Linked DNA regions of Homo sapiens. The protein of the gene in region 1 interacts with the protein of each later gene in a biochemical or structural test. Each region holds a gene or a part of one and is shown in the gene's direction. Other genes may lie near its edges.

Region 1 (7,060 bases):
GAGGGATGGTGCTAATTCATGAGAGTTCCGTCCCCATGATCCAATCACCTCTCCCCAGGCCTCACCTCCAACACTGGGGATTACATTTCAATATGATATTTTCATGAGGACACACATCCAAACTATATCACGTTTGATCACAGTTTCTTCCTAATGTGTAGTTTATATTTTAACAGAAGAATGTTTTGCCTTGAAGTCACTAACATCTTCATCAGTAAGTTTTCATTCTGTTGATATCTCTTAAAGGAGTTGCAGTCATTCACACAAAAATCATGTAAAGATGAAATGATACTTTGAAATTATCACAGAATCGATAATGCCCTTCTTGTGGTTGGATCACTTTATAAAAAGCATATAGTGCATTTTCCTTTGTCAGCTGCATTAATCAGTGCCATCATCAGTGTAAGTTTGCATATTGAATATTCAGTCTCACCATTTTGGGAAGATTTTGTGACTGGAAGACTAACAGGGTCATATTGTTAACTTACTTAAAGCATTAGTAGTTGGTGATCATCTCCCTGTCAAAGGTGTATGTTTTTAATGAACATCTACAAATTTAGATATAATTGATTTATTATTATGCTTATCACTGAAATGCATGATAAGATGAAATGCAGATTAAGTCCTCCATTTGTTTGACAGAGCAGGAGAAGAAAAGATGATATGAGAAATGGTAGGGGGTGGAGGGACGGAAGGAAGGAGCAAAAGACTAAAATAATAGGCTACTGTGCCTTATGACTATAGGTTTGTCTCAGTCTTGGGGGCCAATTAGGATGTTGATCCATGGACTTCTGGCTTTTTGCCCACCGCAGTTTTAACTTGACCCACAAATGCAAACAAACATCCTAATCACTTGACCTCTTTGATCAAGTATGTGCCTTGCCATTTCCTTCCAAGAAAGCTGTGATGTTCTATCCCTTATTTCTCTGCATTCAGACTTGCCGTAAATTCTCTCCCACACATCCTTTTGATGAAGAATTGCTGGACCTGAGCCAGTTTATTCAGATCTTGTGCTGCAGCTTGGCACATAGTCTGTAATAAGACATATCCCCAATCCTATGTGACATAAAAGTGATCTACTCAGTTCTAGAATCCTCTGTTTCAAATACAGGTGGTTAGACAAAAGATTTAATTGGAAAGTCACTCAGTGTTTAAGTAAGAGGAGGAGAACTCCTTTCTCTAGATCTCTACACAGAATTGCTGTTCAAATCGAATGATCAAATATCTATCCTCAAAGAACCTAACATCTCTATGCGGGCTGTGTTAGGTGCCCCCTTCTCAGTGGTCTCATAATACCCTGTACACATGCCTCTGTTATATTTTCTGATTACCTGCCAATTTGCCTTTTTCTTTTTCTTTTTTTTTTTTTTTTTTTTTTTTTGAGGTGGAATCTTGCTCTGTTGCCCATGCTGGAGTACAGTGGTGCGATCTCAGCTCACTACAACCTCCACCTCCTGGGTTTAAGTGATTATCCTGCCTCAGCCTCCTGAATAGCTGGGACTACAGGGGCCTGCCACCACGCCCAGCTAATTTTTGTAATTTTGGTAGAGACGAGGTTTCTCCATGTTGGCCGGCTGGTCTTGAATTCCTGACCTCAGGTGATCCACCCGCCTCAGCCTCCCAAAGTGCTGGGATTACAGGCGTGAGCCATCACACCCGGCGTAATATGCCTTTTTCTTTGCCCCCATCCTCTGCACTAATCTTAAACTGTGAACTCTGAGAGGAAGACTGAGTGTCTACCATTCCACCTGGCACATTGTAGGTGCTGGAATAAATGTTTGAGTGAATATATGAATGTTAAAAAGAGAAATAAGATTACCAAGTAATTTTCAATCCTGGTAGAACCTTTAAAACCTCTTCTTCAGTTGGCTCTGTCACCAACAATATTTTAGCACTAAAATGCAGATTTTAGTAATAAGTGACATTCAAATTCACGTAGTACAGTTTAGTCAGTAAACTTTGTTTCTCAAACTAGATCACTGCTTGAGTTCTAAAACTGAACTAGAATTTGAATGGTCTATTTTTATGGACCTTCTTAGTGATATCCCCACCACCACCCAGCAGTCCTCTTAGCTGCCTTGTTAGTCTTAAGCACGCCTTATTCACTTTGCATAAGTACACTGAGTCTCTGTGATGTGCACGCAGGCACTATAACAGGAGCATGTGGCCGGGCGCGGTGGCTCATGCCTGTAATCCTAGCGCTTTGGGAGGCCGAGGCGGGTGGATCACGAGGTCAGCAGTTCAAGACCAGCCTGGCCAACATGGAGAAACTCCGTCTCTCCTAAAAATACAAAATTAGCCAGGCGTGGTGTCACATGCCTGTAATCCCAGCTACTCGGGAGGCTGAGGCAGGCGAATCACTTGAACCCAGTAGGCAAAAGTTGCAGTGAGCCAAGATCATGCCATTGCACTCCAGCCTGGGCAACGAGAGTGAAACTCTGTTCCCACCGTCCCCCCGCCCCCCCCAAAAAAGGAGCATGTGATTTAAGAGGAGAGCAAGGCATATAAATAAAGGATTATAATATAATAAGAGCTACCATCGAAGGTTGTGCGGTGTGAAATGTAAATCTAAGGTAAGGCTGTTAGAGAAAGTTTCTCTGAGAAAGTAACATTTGAGCCTAGTCTTAAAGAATGAGGGGTCCAGATTTGAGGAAAGGAGATAAACGTTACAAGGAAGGGAAACAACATATGGGAAAAACCCAGAAGCACGCAGATGCAGAAATGGGAAGCATGCGTGAGGGGGAGTGTTGGAAGATGAGGCTAAAGGGAGAAGGCAGACCTGAGTGGATGCCTACAAAGGCGTTTGGAATTTAATGTGTAGCCCAAACGGGGAAGTCATTAGAATATTTTAGACAGAGGAAGGACATGTGCTCTTTCTGTTCTCTGTCCATGTCTTCCCTTTAGAGATTTTCCCTTCAGAGACCTTGTTTTTCCCTATCGTCACTACTACTTTCTCTGCTAATGTTTTATACCTACTTCCCTGCCAAGCTAATTTATTTGATTAGAGTAAAATGGTCTTAGGTTGCAGTTTAGAACATCCTAAAAATCAGGAAGTTTGTGTCCCCTACCCCCTGATCACAGTACATTGTGACCCTGATTGCATTTTGTTGCTTGAGAAATTGACTGACTATGGTCATCTCATTCCATTCTTATTGTTACAAGGAAAAAAGAATGACACCTTCGTTTATAAAAAGAATTCCATATGTTCTACTAGATTGCCAAAATGAGGGTGGACATGAAAACAACTGAATTTGTACACTTCAGACTTTATTAATATTTTTTGTTTAACCCTTTTTAGGATTTTCATTTTCTGGGCCTAGATTATAAATGGGCACACTAGACTTGAAGTCAGGAGAGCTTCTTTTCTATGGAGCTACTAAAATGCTCCTGGCAATTGTTCTTTTCATTTTTGACCCATTGCAGTGCATCCACAATTGTATGGTTGTTTGTGCAACATCGTCTTAGCCAGTCTCATAATAAACCATTCTTTGGAATTTTACAAAGATGTCATTCTTGGCACCTAAACAGAGAATCATTTGTGCCTAACCAATCATTTTCCATTTATGAATCCTGTTCAATTAGAAAGTAGTTTATGAACAGTGTCCTGTTTTTTAAATGTAATTTGAAATAGCAGGTGGCAGACTTGCATTTTATATTACCTAGATATCTCAAGCCTTTATGCTTACTCATTCACACGGGTCTGCTAGTGAAGCCAACTGTATAAGGTGTGGGAGGTAGGCAAGCCTCGGGGGAACCCAGGGCTCATTTGGTTCATTGCTGCCATCTGCTGGGGCTTGGCTGCTGGCATGGGAAGGCTGCCCACGAGAGAGCTGAGCCATCCTGAAGGAACCTCTGTATACTTCCAGTACTAATCAGCTATTATGTTTCTAGGTGACAACCTACCCCTAACTAAAAGGACTTTATGAACTCTAGAGCATTATATCAGTCAGTGTAAAGTGGCATTAGATTATGTTGGTAACACGTACTCTACAGCAAACATGAGGCTCAGAGAACGAAGCAACACACTAAGGACTCAAAGATCCTAGAGTATCAGAACTGGAAGAACCTTAAGCCAGATGTGGTGGAACTTTAGTATATAGTTACATGAGTCGCCTAGGCACTTGTTAAAATGCAGATTCCTGGGCCTAGCCCAAGAGACTTTGATTCAGTAGGCCCAAGCTGTGTCTCATTTAACAAGCTCCCCACAGGGTTCTGATGCAGGTGGTCTAGCACCATGCTAGAGAAAAGCACTACCTTAAATATACAGACAAGAGCTTCTCAGCCATTTTTCTTATTAATGCCTCACTTCAATCAATAAGAAAAATTACATCTTCCATCAATGGGATGAGTCATCATCATACCGTAACTAGTTCTTTGAAGCACACGCACACAAATTATTGTTGGATTGCTTTGTTCTGCAACAACAACAAAAGAGTCGCTTTTAAATAATTATCTTGGCTGGGTGCAGTGGCTCAGGCCTGTAATCCCAGCACTTTGGGAGGCCGAAGTGGGTGGATCACCTGAGGACAGGAGTTCGAGACCAGCCTGGCCAACATGGTGAAACCCCATCTCTACTAAAAATACAAAAAATTTAGCTGGGCGTGGTGGCATGCGCCTGTAATCCCAGCTACTTGGGAGGAGGCAGGAGAATCGCTTGAACCTGGGAGGCGGAGGTTGCAGAGAGCCGAGATCATGCCACTGCACTCCAGCTTGGGCAACAAGAGCAAAACTCCATCTCAAAATAATAATGATAATAATAATTAATATTATTATCTTTCCTTTCTTCTCCAAGAAGGAAATTCTGTAATTTATATTGGTCAGCTTATTGTGGAATGCTTTTTGGCCTTCAGCATTGGCAAGCAAAGGTCTAGTTTCATATTACACTTAACATAGCCATCATTTCCATGACCATAGTAATCATTTAGTAAATGTTTATTGAATTTTTAGGGACCTAAAACACCATAATATGACTCTTTTCTTTGGAGAAGCCAAACACAAGGCTGCATCCCTGATAGTTTTAGGGGATGTCTTCTTATCACTTTATTTATTTATTTGTTTTTTGAGACAGAGTTTCACTGTTGTTGCCCAGGCTAGAGTGCAATGGCACAGTCTCAGCTCACTGCAACCTCTGCCTCCTGGGTTCAAGTGATTCTCCTGCCTCAGTCTCTCTAGTAGCTGGGATTACAGGTTCCCACCACCATGCCTGGCTAATTTTTGTATTTTTAGTAGAGACGGGGTTTCACCATGTTGGCCAGGCTGGTCTCGAACTCCTGACCTTAGGTGATCTGCCCACTTCAGCCTCCCAAAGTGTTGGGATTACAGGCGTGAGCCACCAAGCCCGGCCTTATTATCACTTCTTACTCCCTTATCTGTGTTGGCAAGCTTGGCTAAAGTACAAATAGTAGTAAATACAAATAACAACTCTCCTTCTCACATAGGAAAAAATAAGTGGGTGGCCTAAAAACAAATTTGAGAACTCACCTTAGAACTGAGAATTCTGAATACCTGTCATATGCCTGCTTGATAGAATATTCTCAAAAATGTTGCTCATTTTTTTTATATGCTACTGCTCCTGAAACTACTGGTTTCAATCTGTGAACTGAGTCCCATGAGGCCACTGAACTCAAGGGCAGATTACCCTTGGTGTACCGTGTCACACTGAGTGAGGACCAGTAATTTTTTCGTGTATTTCATGTAGTGTTTTTTGTGTTTTTTTTGTTTGTTTGTTTTAGCTTTTAAGTTGTTGGCATTCAGGACTTTCAACTCCTTTAATGCACATGATCATATATTTAGTGCAGTTACCATGTCGCACATGTAGAATCAAAAGGCAGTTTATTGAACCTCCTTATAGAGAAATCTTGCTGAGCTTTTAGGATCATAATTTTTATGGCTTGCATATGTGCTTTGGCATATCATCTTATTTTAAGTTTTGTCCCCTGCATTTATAATCTCATTTGTTAGGGGTTTTGTTTTTGTTTTAGGTGTACCTGAAGGAAATCTTAAAAGAAATTGGTGTTCAGAATGTAAAAGGGATCCACAAAAACACATGGGAGCTGAAGCCAGAGTACAGACACTATCAAGGAGAAGAAAAGAGTGACTAAGAAGACTCCTAGCCAGCATGCTAGTGAAACGACTAGCAGCGATGCTATGCAAAAGGCGCTGATACTGGAAGGCTTGAACACCGTATGTTAATAGGGGTTAAGTGACAGTACTTTGATTTCTCTCGGTAAATTTTTTAAACCTGTAATTCTTGTAAAGTTTCTTAACTGTTTTTTTGAGGAGAAAGAACAGATTTATTTATAGACTTAACTTGTATTAAACCAGATTATTCACAGTAGGAATAGGGGTTGGAGGATTAAGAGGGTTTTTCTTAAATATTAGCTTTTAATGTGTACAATTAGGAAATTTTTTTAAGTGAGGACTCTCTACCCTTGCCGTATCTAAGGAGCTGAGGTAATACAGATCCAAGGAGAATTGTATAGCAAGAAAAAAACAGTCAACTACAGAAACTCTTAAAAGGAATAAAAACCCAAAGTTCCTTATTTTGAAATTGTCAAAGAACAAAGCGGTGTTTTTCTTTTAAACAGGTGATCACGTTTCGTGTTCATACTCAACGTTAATAAAAGGAGAGAGTTTGTAGTGAAATGGCAGTGTTCATCATTGGCTTATTTTACCGTAGTGATGCTGAGATGAGAAATGTGCAGGATCATGGTCAGTTGATGTTTCTTTTATTTGCTTTTAAGATAATTAGAAATTAAATATCTTTCCAAAATTTGAAGATATGTCTCCCCCAGTCAGATTATAAGCTTCTCAAAACTGGCTTGCCCCCAGAATTTTACTGCTTACCCAGCAGACATGTATTGACCATCACATGGCAAATGATATCAGCAAATCAAAAGATGGGCGTAGGGGTCCAGCCGAGACAGAAAACGTTAGTTTCAATTCCTGGGGCATTAAAATGTTGCTTTTCTCTTTCTCTTTAATTAATTTTTAAATGAAAACAATACATGTATATGTTAGTTTTTTCTAGCACAACACAATATTATATATTAAGCGATCC
Region 2 (4,453 bases), on another chromosome or scaffold:
GTACATTTAATTTAATTTTGCTGCAGGTACAAACCCGTAGTGCTGATGAACCAATGACAACATTTGTTGTCTGTAATGAATGTGGAAATCGATGGAAGGTATGGACTCTCTTGGATTCATATTATATACTCACTTAAAATAGAAAGATTTCTTCTGGTCTTTTCATAGGTCTGCCTAGATATCTAAATATATACAGATATGCTCACACTATACAGTACTCTTGTACTCCCTGACTACTTGTAATGGAATATACCATCTTGTTACCCTACTAGAAATAAAGAGTATTAACTTGACTTTACCACCTTTATTTGTTTTGGTGCAGGAAATGGGGAGTGAATCTTAACTGTTCAATTATTATATCACTGTCCTATTTATACTATATTCATTAAGTTGTTTTGACTCTTGTACTTCCAGAAAATCTATACATGTGTATTACTTGTTTTAATAGATTTTGATTTTGGAAAATTTTTTTTCCCTTGTTGAAATCAGACCCAATGATTTTAGTGTTTATTTTAGAAATTACAGATGAGCACTGCTGTCATTTGGTAGGCTTTTCACTAAGCCTTCATATTGCCTGTGTGCTCTTGAAATTAGTCCCACACAGGCAAGTTTATATTATTTAAATGATTCATTCTTGAGGGATTTTGTGAAACAAAAGCATAAAATTTAAATTTGGGAGCAGAAATACATATCAGTACTAAAAACATTTTAATCATTATTATAGATGAGGATGTTAAGGGTGTGAGTTTGGGAGGCTTACGTGGTAGGAGTTTAGTCTTTGGAATCATACAAACTGATTTTGAACTCCTTTGCCACTTCCCATTACTGAACTATATTGTTCTTATGTATTAAATGTAAATAGTACCTACATTTCGGATTGTGATGAAGAGTAGAGATAATATATTTAGTGTGCCTGATAATTGTTGGTGTTCTAAAAATGCTGGCTATTTTTATTAGTTTTTCTGAAGTTTGTACAAGATTCTTTTTTTTTTCATTTATACTTACATAGACTTTTCAGTTTAATGCTCATTTTGAATTATTCACTTAGCTTAAAGCACTTTCTGAAAATCAGAAATGAACTAGAAGCCATTTGGGCCAGAGTCCCAAACCATGTCGAAGATATCCATTTGGCTTCTTCAACTCCACTTTAAGGGGTTGGGGCCAGTACCTATTTTGTTTTATTTATTCATTAATTTTTTTGAGATAGATCCTCACTGTGTTGCCCAGGCTGGAGTGCAGTGGCGCTATCTCAGCTCACTGCAACCTTCGCCTCCCAGGTTCAAGCGATTCTCCTGCCTCAGCCTCCCAAGTAGCTGGGATTACAGGAATGTGCCACCATGCCCAGCTAATTTTTGTATTTTTAGTAGAGATGGCGTTTCACCATGTTGGCCAGGCTGCTCTTGAACTCCTGACCTCAGGTTATCTGCCTGCCTTGGCCTCCGAAAGTGCTGGGATTACAGGCGTGAGCCACCGTGGCCGGCCCAGTACCCTTATTACGTACAAAGATTTAGTTCTGAGCTGGAAAGATTACTGCTACTGAAAGTGTCTTCATGGTTTGAAACAGTATTTCCTACCCATCTCAGGTTGCAGAAGTTGTCATTGGTCTAGGAGAGGGACATTCACCTTCTTTTTCAATCGTGTTGAGAAAATTTGGCCTGTTCTCTTGGATTTGTTTTGCATGATGGATCTTTTTTGTTGTTGTTGTTGTTTGAGATGGAGTCTTGTTCTGTGGCCCCGGGTTCAAGAGATTCCCCTGTCTCAGCCTTCCGAGTACCTGGGACCACCATGCCTGGCTAATTTTTTGTATTTTAGTAGAGACGGGGTTTCACCACGTTGGCCAGGATGGTCTTGATCTCCTGACCTCATGATCTGCCCATCTCGGCCTCCCAAAGTGCTGAGATTACAGGTGTGAGCCACCGTGCCCAGCTGATGGATCATTTTTATTATGGTGATGAGGTGTACAGTGCAGTTTGCTTTGAATACATGCACTTTGTGACACAAGTTTTGACATAGTACTTAATTGAATTTAAGAAAGTTCAATTTTAGGATAGAAAGCTGATGCCTAGAGTGGCATATTTTAGAAGTTCAATTTTGGAATTGTTATTTTTTTTTTTTTAACCTTAAAAACATTATAAAGAGGTATTTAATAAAAATGCTGAAATTGTTTTATACAAGTTCTTTAGTTGTATGTTCCTAGTAGTTCTAAGTTGGGAAAGTCAGGCACTTAAGATAGGTGATTATTATGTGTGAAAAATACAGCATCTTTTTCAAAAATGCATCTTTTTTAAAAGCAATATCAGGTGTATGCTGTATTAAATGGGGAATGTACCTTATTGGTATTTAAAGGTCTTACAAAATATTTTTTCTTTTTTGACAGTTCTGTTGAGTTGGAAGAATTGGCAAAATATCTGGACCATTAAGAAAACGGATTTTGTAACTAGCTTTAAACTAGGCCAAGCAACTAGTTTTCCTGCAAATCAAATTTTTAAAGCAACTTGGGTTAGACTTTGTTTTTGACCTAACATCCCTTCCTTAAATGCCTTCTGTAGTTTCAGATCAGTAGGGAGACCATATAATAATTTTATGGTACCTGTTTCAAAACATATTTTTTCTGTTTTTATAAGTAAGTTGATATTAATTAAACTCTTGGCAATATTTCTTCTTTCTTAAAGGAAAATATACCTTAACTTTTTTTCTTTTACACTGTGAAACATACACAGTAGAAATTCTGTTACTCTCTGTTATTAATACATAAATGAAAATACATTTTTTTCCATATTGGCATGTAGCTACAAATATTAAAGGAGGAGAAAAGGTAATATAATTTTAGGTTTACCAAATATGGTGTGTATTCAAATAATACTTGACCAGCTTATCTAAAATGTACATAATTTTGAGGTAGCTTATGAATTTGATTTTAATTATTATGTTCACAAGCTTGGAATATTAGATATTATTTTGCATCTGTAACTAACCGTGATCATCATTTCTTGTAATTTCTTGTACATGTATATTACTTGTTCTTAATAGATTTTTGGAAACAAGACTTTATTGAGATCAGTTTGGTTTTCCTGTTAATTTACCTGTTTGACTTTATAATGTGTTTTAGTTTTGCAGAAGAACACTGTTGTAGTTTAGAAGGCTTTTCATAAATCCCCTCATAGGCAAAGATGAAAACTTCCCACTATTTTTTTCCCCTCTTAGGAAGACATACTGGAAAGAAAATGTTTAGCATCTTAGTGTAGTATAGCTATTGTAAACAGTTCATGACTAGATTTTGATTCGGAAATCTATACTGACCAAGGATTAATCTTAAGGATTGTATAATTCATTAAAGCTGTGGTCTTTCCATGTGGAGACTGATAGAAAATAATTTTGTCCCAAGTCTTATTTGCTGACTTTTTCTGTCATGAGTGAGATTGTTGAACAAACTGAATATATGGGCTATAGCAAGTAGCTTTACAGTACAGATCTTACAATTAAGTTTTGCTTTTGTTAAAGTGTGTACCATTTTTTCTGTTTGGAGTAAGACAAAAATTGTTTTGACATAGGTTCCCTAGGGTACACTTGCTCTAGCATACTTTAAAGGCCACTGTTGCAAAGTCTACATTTTATGCTGAATCTGCATTCTGTCAGGCACCCGTAGAAAGACCTCAGTACATGCTTTGCACTCTCCTTTGCTCCCTTTTTCCAATTTCTTATTGCATATCATTTTGTTGTAATACAGAAAGCAGCATTTTTAAATGTCCGTGTTAAGAATTGGCCCACTGGTACCAACTCACCTCTATTTTGTCAGTTCATAGTTGAAGATTTTGTTTTATTTCAAAAACAAAGTACATTTTTGAAATAATGTTTCAGAATAAAATAATCTCACTTTTAAGTGATCCATTTTAAAATTTGTAATTCAATAAAGTTTTTTTTGTTGTTAAACATATATCACATTTTGTCATTTTATTTAGACAATGAAGCTTGCTTTACCTTTTGTTTAACCACACACCTGCTGTCCCCTCAACTACTAAGGTATTTCTAAAGTACAGTTTTAATTAAGTGAAGCCTGGTCTTCAGTAAAAACTAGTATTCAGCAGCATTACAGAGCATGTTTTCTTTCTTATCTTTTCCTGGACCTCTGGCGATGGATGGAATGGCAGGTTCTGAGTAAATACGTGAGTGCATCCCATGTGTACACTTAATTTAATGTGAGAGACCAAATAGTGAGTCTTGCTATTGGAAAATACTAGACTTTATTTATTTATTTTTTTATTTTTTTGAGATGGAGTCTTGTTCTGTCACCCAGGCTGGAGTGCAATGGTGCAATCTCGGCTCACTGCAACCTATGCCTCCCAGGTTCAAGCGATTTTCCTGCCTCAGCCTCCCAAGTAGCTAGGATTACAGGCGCCCGCCACCATGCCCAGCTAATTTTTGTATTTTTTAGTAGAGATGGCATTTCACCATG
Region 3 (7,273 bases), about 28 Mb from region 1:
CACTTCATCTATAAATCAACATCTAAAAGAGTATTTCCGTGTGACCCATGCACGGTTCATTTGAGCATTCACAGGGTGTTCCCCACAGCCTGGTACATTACAGCTTTTGTCATAACATGAACAGCAATCGGCTCAAAACACTGCCCATTGTGATGCTGATGATGAGACCTCCCTAATGTTCTAAAAGATTGTTTGGTGTAACCACTTTAGCTCAGACCTTTCTTTTAACCTTGCCTATCATGTTTCGAGTCAGAATTTAAATACTGTGCAGTTTAAGCTACAATACGCTTGGCCTATAACTTGGTTCCAGGCATTTATATTTATGTCACTTTTGTCTACTTATTATACTAACAAGGTGGAAAAAGCAATCCCAGTCTCTCCAAAAGGTAAAACTCTCCTGTTTTTTTGGATATTATTAGAGTTTTAAAATTAGGCTAGATAAATTATAGTACCCTTAGGAATAAGTGCATAAAGGGAGTTTTATGAAATATTTTAAGAAGAACACATTTAAAAATCCAAACTGAAATATAAAATGTAATTTCTTAAGAACTGGAGGCAAGAGACATTACAAAAATAAAATATTAAATTGTTGTCTTAAGACATAATTTTAATTAATATAAATAGAAGTATTTAGTCTTATTTAAACTGCATATTTTTTCATCACAAAAGCAATGAACAGAGCATCTTCTCTCTTGTCTCGTAATCTTTTGAGTCAAAATGCTTTAAATTCCAACTAATCTCAGTTGAAGCTTCTATTTATCAGGCTATTTCCTTAATGACTTTTTTTCTGATGTGTGGCTTTAGGTGGTTGCCATTAATGAAAAAATACAAAGACTACAGATGTGAAATGTTGGAGAGGACAATAATTACAATAGTTTTAAGTTTTCACTGATACAGATTCTAACAGGGGTGTGCAATCAATGACTACCAAAAAGTCACTTTAATTAAATAATCTTACCCTAGAGAAGAGTGTGCTCCCGTATAAAGCTTTATTTTTCATTTTTATTCTTGTTCTTTTTTCTGTGGCCCAAGATCACTTGGCAATTTGATACTGATTTGGCAGAAATAAATATTCTATGAATATTTTTCTACTCAAAGTGAATACAGTTTTGTTGGCTGTGATACTCTATACCTCTTAATTTCAAGCTGTGACGTTTTTGCCAAACAACTGAATTTAGATTTGCCAAACAACTGAATTTAGATATTCCTTTTGCCGTGTCGTTGTGTGAACATTGCCCTAGTGATAGCTTCATATTTCCCTCATCTCATCATTCAGAAGCTATTTATCTATTTTTTTCCACTGCCTCCTTCAAACCCCCTCCCCCAACATTGAATGCCTGTTCAGCCCCCGCATATTCATCCGTATTTATTCCCGTAAAGATAGTGACACTTATGGTTTATTCTAAGACTAAATCTGTGTTGCCCAGTGACTAAGGACTTAAGCATGCACACTGCTTCTATGCTTACCCTCCTACCTAACTTGACTACTCAACATTTTTATTTCATTCCCTCAGAATCCCCTGTTTTGGCACAGTTCAGTTAACACACCACTGCCAGGCCACTAATTGATTTCTGAAACCTGACATTTGTTTTTTGTTTTCTCCTATCTTCCCTAATGGTACAGCACTACTAAGCGGGAAGGAATGCAAAGAACTAGAAAGTTCAAAGTAATTGAGGATCTGTCCATTCACACTGTCTGGCTTCAAGCCAATGTAGAACCTGGAACATTTGAAAAATATTTATCAAGTTTTAACCCTTTTTACTAAGTCGGTGAAACAGGTTTGCAGCTGTAGCATTTATGTTAAAAGCAACAGCAAGGAAACTTGGTCGAACATGTTCTTTATATGTTCAGAATCACATGGCAAATGTCTCCGAAAAGGATTACTTTCCAATTTCCGTACTATTGTACAGTGCTAAGCTAGTTATTTTCTGTGAGACTGCAGAGCAGGGCATTTCAGAGAAACTATTACTTAAAAGTGGCAGCCCTATTTCATGAATCTTTATGCCCAAAATGGAATTTTAAAACCTGCTACTGTATTGGAGCAAAAAGGAATATATTCAGTTACTATAAGAACCCCAACGCTAGCTTCATATCTATATTATGAAAAGTGGAAATATGAAAAATTAACAAGACTAAAAATATTAAAAACTTAGTTGTATGGTTTTTTTTTTGCAATGAAAAAGCTTTTGTAAATGAAAGCATGTTAAAAAGTGGTGTGAAATTATAGAAGCATTTCCAGTAAAATACATGGATTTTATTGCAGTGAAAACTTAGGTTGAAAGACCGGGCCACTGAAGCTCTCGTAAAAAGACAAAAGGAAAGGTCTAGATAGGTTTAAAAGCACATTAAGATACAGCTACCGAATGTATTAAATCTAAGTTAGATTTAGCTTAAAGTTACAAGAGCACAAAAGTTCTATTAAGAATTATCTACATCACATTTAGGTTTGATGTTATCAGAATTAAGTAACTAAAAATCTTTCAAAGCTCAATTTTTTAAAAGAGTTACATTAAATCCCATCCTAATTCTATAATCTGTTTCTAAGCTAATTAATTACATGATAGGTTTTACATTAGAGAAAAGCAGGACAGCTTTTTAAAGATGAAGATGGACAGCATGGGGCTGCTTGGTTAGAGAAAAACTTGCAAAAGCACTTATTAAATAATACTTTGATAACATGAAAGTAGTCATCAGCCATTCTCTGAAGGCAGTGATCACAGCTATAAAAATGAATCATGTGTCAACAGGAAGAGAAGGAAAAGGAGAAAAACCCAGTTTACAGCATAATTTTATATTTTCTAATAATAAATACATTTCTTTATGTGCATATTAATTTTCTACCCATTGAAAATGAGATCCATACCTTTGATAGATACACTCTTTGAAGTGAACGTTTTTATCCAAGACTTTTTTTTAAAGCTGTTTTACTCTGAAGTGATGAATAGGCTGTGGTATATGTAAAACTGTCTAATGGTATATTGTGTGTCAACATATGTACATTTGTAGTAATATCACAGGCATTTTTATTGCAGTTTATTGTTCCGTCCTCCCAATAAGCCAGATAAAATCATGTACAAGAACATTAAGGATTAAGGGAAGTGGTTTCCTTAGGTGATTGCTGGCAAAAATTCACCCTCCCATTATAACAACATAGTAAATGGATGGTAATATATTTGGCTATTACTTTCCAACAAATTTGGATTCCCAGTTTTCAGAGCTGCTCTGTGTCTATGTTTGCGGCTTTTTGATTGTCTCTTCGTAGGAAAAGGTGCCACAATGTGAGGTAAATGTGCTAGGTTTCTGCTTTGTAAATATTAAAGTCCATTTTTTGAACATACAGTGCTAGCAAAAATAAGTCAAAGATGTAATGTCTATTTAAATACACGTTTGAGCTAGTCGTGCTTAAATTAGATTCCATGCTTCGGCTAGAATCAACACGGCTTAAATATTAGAAACTTCAAAATTCATATGGCCCAAGCCCTCCTCCCCACACACGGATGGGAAGTAGAAATGTGTGGGAAAACGTCTAGCAATTAAAATCCTGAAGGAGTGGGAAAAACCCAGGCTTTTATGCAAGGATCTGAAAAAACGCTTGCCATCAAATCTTTTATTCAGGCATTCTGAATTTGCCTTGTTAAACGGATACACTCACTGCTAAAGATACACAGGGACAAGAGCTGTTTTAAATTTGTTTATCACACCGCCCCTAGTTTTCTGCTAAAGAGAAGTACATTTTGGATATTTAAAAGTACACACTCATTAGACAAATCTCTAAAAGCCTCAGCGCCCCTACCTAGCTGCCTTCTGGGTTTCAGCTTTTGAGTTTCAGGTCCTTGCACAACACCTAAGACGTGCAATACTCTTTTTCTTCCTAATCCTGGCAGAGAACAGTGCGAAGAGATCTCCCTCCGCGTCTCCACCCTAATTCCCCCTCTTCCCAGATTCCACCCGCTCCGCTACTTCCCTCCGCCCCCGGCTCCGCCAGCCCAATCTGTCAGAGAAGTTGTGTACAAACTGCGCGGCCGCCCTGCGCGCGAAGCTCGTGGCCCGAGAGGGGTGCGGTCGGGCCGACGGAGGCGGGGCCCTGGCTGCCTCTCTCCCTGCTCATAGGCTGGCCGCTCAGGCCTGGCCGGCCTCGGGGCCTCGGGATTCGCGGCGGCGCTGCCAATCAGGCGATCGGGCCCCGCCCCCCCGGAGTTGGGTGAAATAGAGGCGGGCGTCAAGTGTCAGTAGTCGCGGGGCAGGTACGTGCGCTCGCGGTTCTCTCGCGGAGGTCGGCGGTGGCGGGAGCGGGCTCCGGAGAGCCTGAGAGCACGGTGGGGCGGGGCGGGAGAAAGTGGCCGCCCGGAGGACGTTGGCGTTTACGTGTGGAAGAGCGGAAGAGTTTTGCTTTTCGTGCGCGCCTTCGAAAACTGCCTGCCGCTGTCTGAGGAGTCCACCCGAAACCTCCCCTCCTCCGCCGGCAGCCCCGCGCTGAGCTCGCCGACCCAAGCCAGCGTGGGCGAGGTGGGAAGTGCGCCCGACCCGCGCCTGGAGCTGCGCCCCCGAGTGCCCATGGCTACAAGGGTGCTGAGCATGAGCGCCCGCCTGGGACCCGTGCCCCAGCCGCCGGCGCCGCAGGACGAGCCGGTGTTCGCGCAGCTCAAGCCGGTGCTGGGCGCCGCGAATCCGGCCCGCGACGCGGCGCTCTTCCCCGGCGAGGAGCTGAAGCACGCGCACCACCGCCCGCAGGCGCAGCCCGCGCCCGCGCAGGCCCCGCAGCCGGCCCAGCCGCCCGCCACCGGCCCGCGGCTGCCTCCAGAGGACCTGGTCCAGGTAGGAAGAGCCGCTCCCCTCCCACCGCAGCACTCCCGGGCTCGGGCGTGTCCCGTTGCTGCGACTCGCGGGCGACAGGGGCCGCTCCAGGCTGGGGCGTGCGTCGGGGCGCACCGGAGCCGGTGCTGGGTGGGCAGCCCCGCCCTGCACGCCTGGCCGGGGCCCCGCGTTTCGCTGAGAGTAAATGGGGGGGGGGGCCGGGGGTGGGAAGGATGGAGGGGAATCTGCCCCGGCGGGTCGGCCTGGGAGAGGTAAGAGGGAGGGAACTGGGTGCTCACGCGCACCTTAGTTGTTTTTCTTACACTTGAGGGACGAAACCTTGTACCTTACGCTCAGTTTTACTTAAATTACGCCTTCGCCTGTACCGCTCTCCAATGCCAAGGCATTGGAGCCCTCCCCCCCATCCCCATCGTCTCGGGTTAAGTAGAAACGCAAATTGGGGTGCTGGGGAGAGGTTCCCCAAGGTTTCATACCCGGTGGCTCAACCTGCTTTAGAAGCGATTGCGGGCCGCGTTTGGAAAATGAGAGTTAGGAAAGCTAAGGTTGTGTCGGAGCGCTTATTTTTCCTTAAAAAAAAAAAAAAAAAAAAAAGACCGGGGGTGTTGTTTTCTTCGTGTGCACGTAAATTTCCTCCCGGAGCCGCGTTGAAAGCTGGCAGTTGGCTTTTACACTTGCCCAGCAGCCGAATTAGAGCAACCGCCTGTTTCTTTCGCCCACGCAGGGAGTCATATAGCCCAGAAAAAACTTCCCGGGACTTTTAGCCTGTCCCAAGGAAAAAAAAATTGGAAACATACCCACATGCAAACAGCTGGAAGAGCTAAAATCAGAAACCACTAACCGCCGCGGGAGCGCAGTGCACGAAAGGGTTTAGTTCAGTTTATTTCAAGACACTTCATTTAGTAGCTCTTTGGCGTGTCGTATATTTGCTACCCAGCGCCTACTCCGTGGGGTCTGCCAGGGTCTTGCTGTGAGAGGGCAGTGGCGTTTGTCAGAGATGTGACTCACATGATGAGAGCGTTAATTTTTATTTTTAAATCATGTCTATCCGGGAAACCCCGTCCGCATCCACACCAAGGTCCGAGATGAAACGCATTTGAAATGAAGTAGTAGCAGAAAATGACTGTCTTATTTACCTGTTAAGGTGCCACAGCTAATATATGCGCCATTCCATCTAGTTGGTTTTCTTATCTTTCGAAATTTCCTTTTCAGTGTTAAAAAATGTAGGCTTAAGTTATACTAGGAGAGAAGATAGCTGGAAAAGGCTTGAGGCGACTTGTTACAAGCTGGTTTATAGCCTAGAAAAGAGATCACCGTTTGAAAAGTATTTGGTTATTTCAGTTTGTCAATTTTCTGCTCTGGAGGCACTAAGAAGATAAGGGATGACTGAGCTTTTTACAGAGTAGGGGGGAATGTAGCATTGGCCCACTGAGAAGGACATGATAAATGTTTTGCTGATGACTGTGCTAGGGATACAGCAGCCTCCCCACCCACGGGCTCCTTAGCAGCACTCTACCAAGGGAGTGATTTTCCCCTAGGTAATTAAAGATCTGTTTTAGATAGGGATATGAATAGGAACATTTCATTATCATATTAACCAATTACAGGATCTGCTGATGAAAATCAACATTTAGATCAAATATTGAATGTGAAATTGTTTTGTTTCAGTGGATACAAGGTTTTGCTTAGAACGTTGTGTTTAATTTCTCATTGAACTGTAAACAAGAAAAGACACTGAAATAGCCAAATAATATTTTTATATTACTTTTGAAGTATCTAGTCAAGAAAAGAAACCTGTGCAATATTTTAAAGGTTTGCATCGTTTTTTCTATTAAAAAAAACCACGCTTTTTAATGTTTGTGACTTAAACAGAATTGAGGTAGTTTGGCAACATTTCAATACTGTACTCTAATTGCAAACTTAACTGTGTAATGGGGCAGGGAATCCTGCTTGTACAGGGGTGATGGTACCTTGTTATTGCATCAGAATGGAATGTTTTAAGTTTGCTTTCTTTTTTATTCTTGATTTGCGTCTTTCACTTTTGGGGGTGATTGGGGGAGCAGTTTTACCAGTTACACAGAGTTTCATAAGGTTTTGGTCAACCAGTTATTACACAATCGACAAAATAAGCCTGATATGTTTATAAGCAACACTGAGGAGTTTGCCCTAGTACCTTACACAGGGATTGGGGGAATTTTTAGTAGGCGCCGATTGTTCGTTCTTCCCGAGATGGTGAATCAGGTGGATTATGCATTTTATATCTCTTCTTTTTTAGACAAGATGTGAAATGGAGAAGTATCTGACACCTCAGCTTCCTCCAGTTCCTATAATTCCAGAGCATAAAAAGTATAGACGAGACAGTGCCTCAGTCGTAGACCAGTTCTTCACTGACACTGAAGGGTTACCTTACAGTATCAACATGAACGTCTTCCTCCCTGACATCACTCACCTGAGAACTGG
Region 4 (3,815 bases), on another chromosome or scaffold:
ACAGTGTTGTTAATTTGTAAATTAAGAAGCTGGCTCCCCGGCTGTCTAGTAACTTAGGGATTAGCAAATGCAAAAGTATAGACTTTTATGGTAGTTTCTTATCCTTCCCTTTCCCAGATTTCTGTTCTTTGGTTGGTTACAAAGCCTCTTATCTCTTTTTGATTCAGTAAAGTGATGGGTAATAATGCGACACTGGAACAAATCCATCTCTTGTTGGAAATGGAAGCTGGGTTGGGACTTGTGCTGTGTCACCCTCAAGTATGAAGTGTAAACTCTTTCTTGGGCCACCAAAGTAACTAAACAAGAAATGCAACATTCTCCCATGAATACATTAGAGTTAATACTGTGGCCACATTTGGAAAATTAGCATAGCTCGTAAAAGCCAAATGCAGAAAATTAATTGTTAAGTATTCTATCACCACAGCTCTATCCTCCTCCGCCCACCCACCCTTGAGGAAGACAAGCCCAAAGTTAGTTGATGCTATGGAATCACAAGGATGTCCCAGTCCGTGATTTGCTGTAATTGAATCCATTTTAAATGTGGAGTCTGGATGCTGTTGGCATACCTTTATTTTGCTTGTTTTTCCCCCTGACAAACAAATCATTTACACATTTGCCCGAAGCCATAGAATGGGTAGAGGGGATGACTAAGATGTCATCACGTGCTCTCAATTTGGAGGCAGCATGATTTCCCCTGACATTTACATTTATGGGCTAGCTAATTTTTCCCTTCGTCTTAGTAAAGTTTATATTACAGAAGCGCCCAGCCAAGAACCTTATCCCACATCCAGATCTGTAAAATGATGTTCAGATTTTATAATCTGTGGACTGGATGCAATGACAGCTTGTGACTGTTTATTGCGTGGGACTGCCCCCAAATTCAAAGATGCTATTAATTTACCACAGACCTTATCTGCACGATTATCCTTCATAAATATGCTGACGCAATCCACTTTTTCTGGTTCAGAGAGGAGACCAAGGGAAACAGCTAACCCGGTTGCTAAAACCTTTTTCATTTTCCTTCCCATATGTGATTGTCTCCATGTCCAAGGGAGGCTGGGCTAATCATGAACCTGGTCTCCCATTTTTAAAGAGAAGATAAATTATGCTCAGAAGAGATAGCGGTTCATTTCTCACCGACCACTTGATTCCCTTGTCTTACATTAAATGTTCTATTTCTGTTATCTCTAATGCTGTTTGTTTTCCATATAGAAGGTTCAGTTACACCATTACATTTCCAAAACTTTTCTTAAAAAACTCATTTTTAAAAAACGAAGCAACTTACCCATTTATATATGGTCCCCCTCCCCCCAAGAAACACACATAGTTTTGACAAAGGTACCTTTTTCAAAGATGAAACAAAGTATGTCTTTCCATACATAGATATGTGTGTGTGTGTGTGTGTGTGTGTGTGTATATGTATGTATATATAGATTTTTTTAAAGCTAAGTGCTTTCAGTTGAGAGGGGAGGCCCGAAAGGAAAAAACCTAGAGAGATGACGGGGGAGATGGGTTTTTTTTAGTATTATTTTAATGTAACTTTCTTTTGCTAATCCGCTCCTCTCTCTGTTCTCTAGGACATATGAGCCCTACCACCTGCACCCTGAGGAAACACAAGACCAATCGGAAGCCGCGCACGCCCTTTACCACATCCCAGCTCCTCGCCCTGGAGCGCAAGTTCCGTCAGAAACAGTACCTCTCCATTGCAGAGCGTGCAGAGTTCTCCAGCTCTCTGAACCTCACAGAGACCCAGGTCAAAATCTGGTTCCAGAACCGAAGGGCCAAGGCGAAAAGACTGCAGGAGGCAGAACTGGAAAAGCTGAAAATGGCTGCAAAACCTATGCTGCCCTCCAGCTTCAGTCTCCCTTTCCCCATCAGCTCGCCCCTGCAGGCAGCGTCCATATATGGAGCATCCTACCCGTTCCATAGACCTGTGCTTCCCATCCCGCCTGTGGGACTCTATGCCACGCCAGTGGGATATGGCATGTACCACCTGTCCTAAGGAAGACCAGATCAATAGACTCCATGATGGATGCTTGTTTCAAAGGGTTTCCTCTCCCTCTCCACGAAGGCAGTACCAGCCAGTACTCCTGCTCTGCTAACCCTGCGTGCACCACCCTAAGCGGCTAGGCTGACAGGGCCACACGACATAGCTGAAATTTGTTCTGTAGGCGGAGGCACCAAGCCCTGTTTTCTTGGTGTAATCTTCCAGATGCCCCCTTTTCCTTTCACAAAGATTGGCTCTGATGGTTTTTATGTATAAATATATATATATAATAAAATATAATACATTTTTATACAGCAGACGTAAAAATTCAAATTATTTTAAAAGGCAAAATTTATATACATATGTGCTTTTTTTCTATATCTCACCTTCCCAAAAGACACTGTGTAAGTCCATTTGTTGTATTTTCTTAAAGAGGGAGACAAATTATTTGCAAAATGTGCTAAAGTCAATGATTTTTACGGGATTATTGACTTCTGCTTATGGAAAACAAAGAAACAGACACAATGCACACAGAAAATATTAGATATGGAGAGATTATTCAAAGTGAAGGGGACACATCATATTTCTGCATTTTACTTGCATTAAAAGAAACCTCTTTATATACTACAGTTGTTCCTATCTCTCCCCCGCCCCCCACCGCCCCACCACACACATATTTTTAAAGTTTTTCCTTTTTTAAGAATATTTTTGTAAGACCAATACCTGGGATGAGAAGAATCCTGAGACTGCCTGGAGGTGAGGTAGAAAATTAGAAATACTTCCTAATTCTTCTCAAGGCTGTTGGTAACTTTATTTCAGATAATTGGAGAGTAAAATGTTAAAACCTGTTGAGAGGAATTGATGGTTTCTGAGAAATACTAGGTACATTCATCCTCACAGATTGCAAAGGTGATTTGGGTGGGGGTTTAGTAATTTTCTGCTTAAAAAATGAGTATCTTGTAACCATTACCTATATGCTAAATATTCTTGAACAATTAGTAGATCCAGAAAGAAAAAAAAATATGCTTTCTCTGTGTGTGTACCTGTTGTATGTCCTAAACTTATTAGAAAATTTTATATACTTTTTTACATGTTGGGGGGCAGAAGGTAAAGCCATGTTTTGACTTGGTGAAAATGGGATTGTCAAACAGCCCATTAAGTTCCCTGGTATTTCACCTTCCTGTCCATCTGTCCCCTCCCTCCGGTATACCTTTATCCCTTTGAAAGGGTGCTTGTACAATTTGATATATTTTATTGAAGAGTTATCTCTTATTCTGAATTAAATTAAGCATTTGTTTTATTGCAGTAAAGTTTGTCCAAACTCACAATTATTTTAAGAGGTGTTCTCTGTTCTTAGCTGGGCTTAGCTCGAAAGTGCTACCCACATGAGGGGGAAGCTGGTCTTTTTTAATATTTTAATGTAAGTCAACCAAGAGTTGTGGCCAGATTCAGCCATGTTGGGGTGATTGGTGGTGGTGGGGAGTGAACTGAAACTACTGAAATACTTTGAAATGTTTCCTCTGGCAGCTTGTTACTTATGGAAAAGAGGTGGAATTGCTGCGAGGAGTTTTTCAGAAAAAGTACAGTGAAAGATAAGCTTTAAATAAGTGGTGAGGCGGAGATCGGCCAGCATCTAAATCATTTGTACATGATCAAGGGAAAATCTTGAACTTGAAATCTCCCAGCTACCAACACATCAAACTTAAAACTGAGGAAAAGGGTCCTTATAGCTGTTTGCAAGTGGACATGGTAACGAGGCGCATTCGCTGGGCTGGGGGATGGAAGCCGGCTCCCCTTTCAGGAGTGTGTGAAATCGCATTCCGTTTAC

What was found.
Region 2: the proteins of GTF2F2 (region 1) and TCEA1 form a complex in vitro, tested with the Homo sapiens proteins (one study listed by BioGRID).
Region 3: the proteins of GTF2F2 (region 1) and KLF5 form a complex in vitro, tested with the Homo sapiens proteins (one study listed by BioGRID).
Region 4: the proteins of GTF2F2 (region 1) and MSX2 form a complex in vitro, tested with the Homo sapiens proteins (one study listed by BioGRID).

The regions. Positions count from the first base shown.
Region 1 is NC_000013.11:45,277,461-45,284,520, forward strand, and holds part of GTF2F2 (general transcription factor IIF subunit 2), read left to right. Parts: intron 1-5,981; coding exon 5,982-6,101; 3' UTR 6,102-7,060. UniProt on the Homo sapiens protein: TFIIF is a general transcription initiation factor that binds to RNA polymerase II and helps to recruit it to the initiation complex in collaboration with TFIIB.
Region 2 is NC_000008.11:53,966,037-53,970,489, reverse strand, and holds the end of TCEA1 (transcription elongation factor A protein 1), read left to right. Parts: intron 1-26; coding exon 27-98; intron 99-2,377; coding exon 2,378-2,386; 3' UTR 2,387-3,934; downstream 3,935-4,453. Other genes in the region: LYPLA1-TCEA1 readthrough, read left to right, coding at 27-98, 2,378-2,386.
Region 3 is NC_000013.11:73,054,773-73,062,045, forward strand, and holds the start of KLF5 (Krueppel-like factor 5), read left to right. Parts: upstream 1-4,232; 5' UTR 4,233-4,555; coding exon 4,556-4,816; intron 4,817-4,909; exon of another isoform or gene 4,910-5,028; coding exon of another isoform or gene 5,029-5,067; intron 5,068-7,088; coding exon 7,089-7,273. UniProt on the Homo sapiens protein: Transcription factor that binds to GC box promoter elements. Activates the transcription of these genes.
Region 4 is NC_000005.10:174,727,582-174,731,396, forward strand, and holds the end of MSX2 (homeobox protein MSX-2), read left to right. Parts: intron 1-1,577; coding exon 1,578-2,002; 3' UTR 2,003-3,315; downstream 3,316-3,815. UniProt on the Homo sapiens protein: Acts as a transcriptional regulator in bone development. Represses the ALPL promoter activity and antagonizes the stimulatory effect of DLX5 on ALPL expression during osteoblast differentiation. Probable morphogenetic role.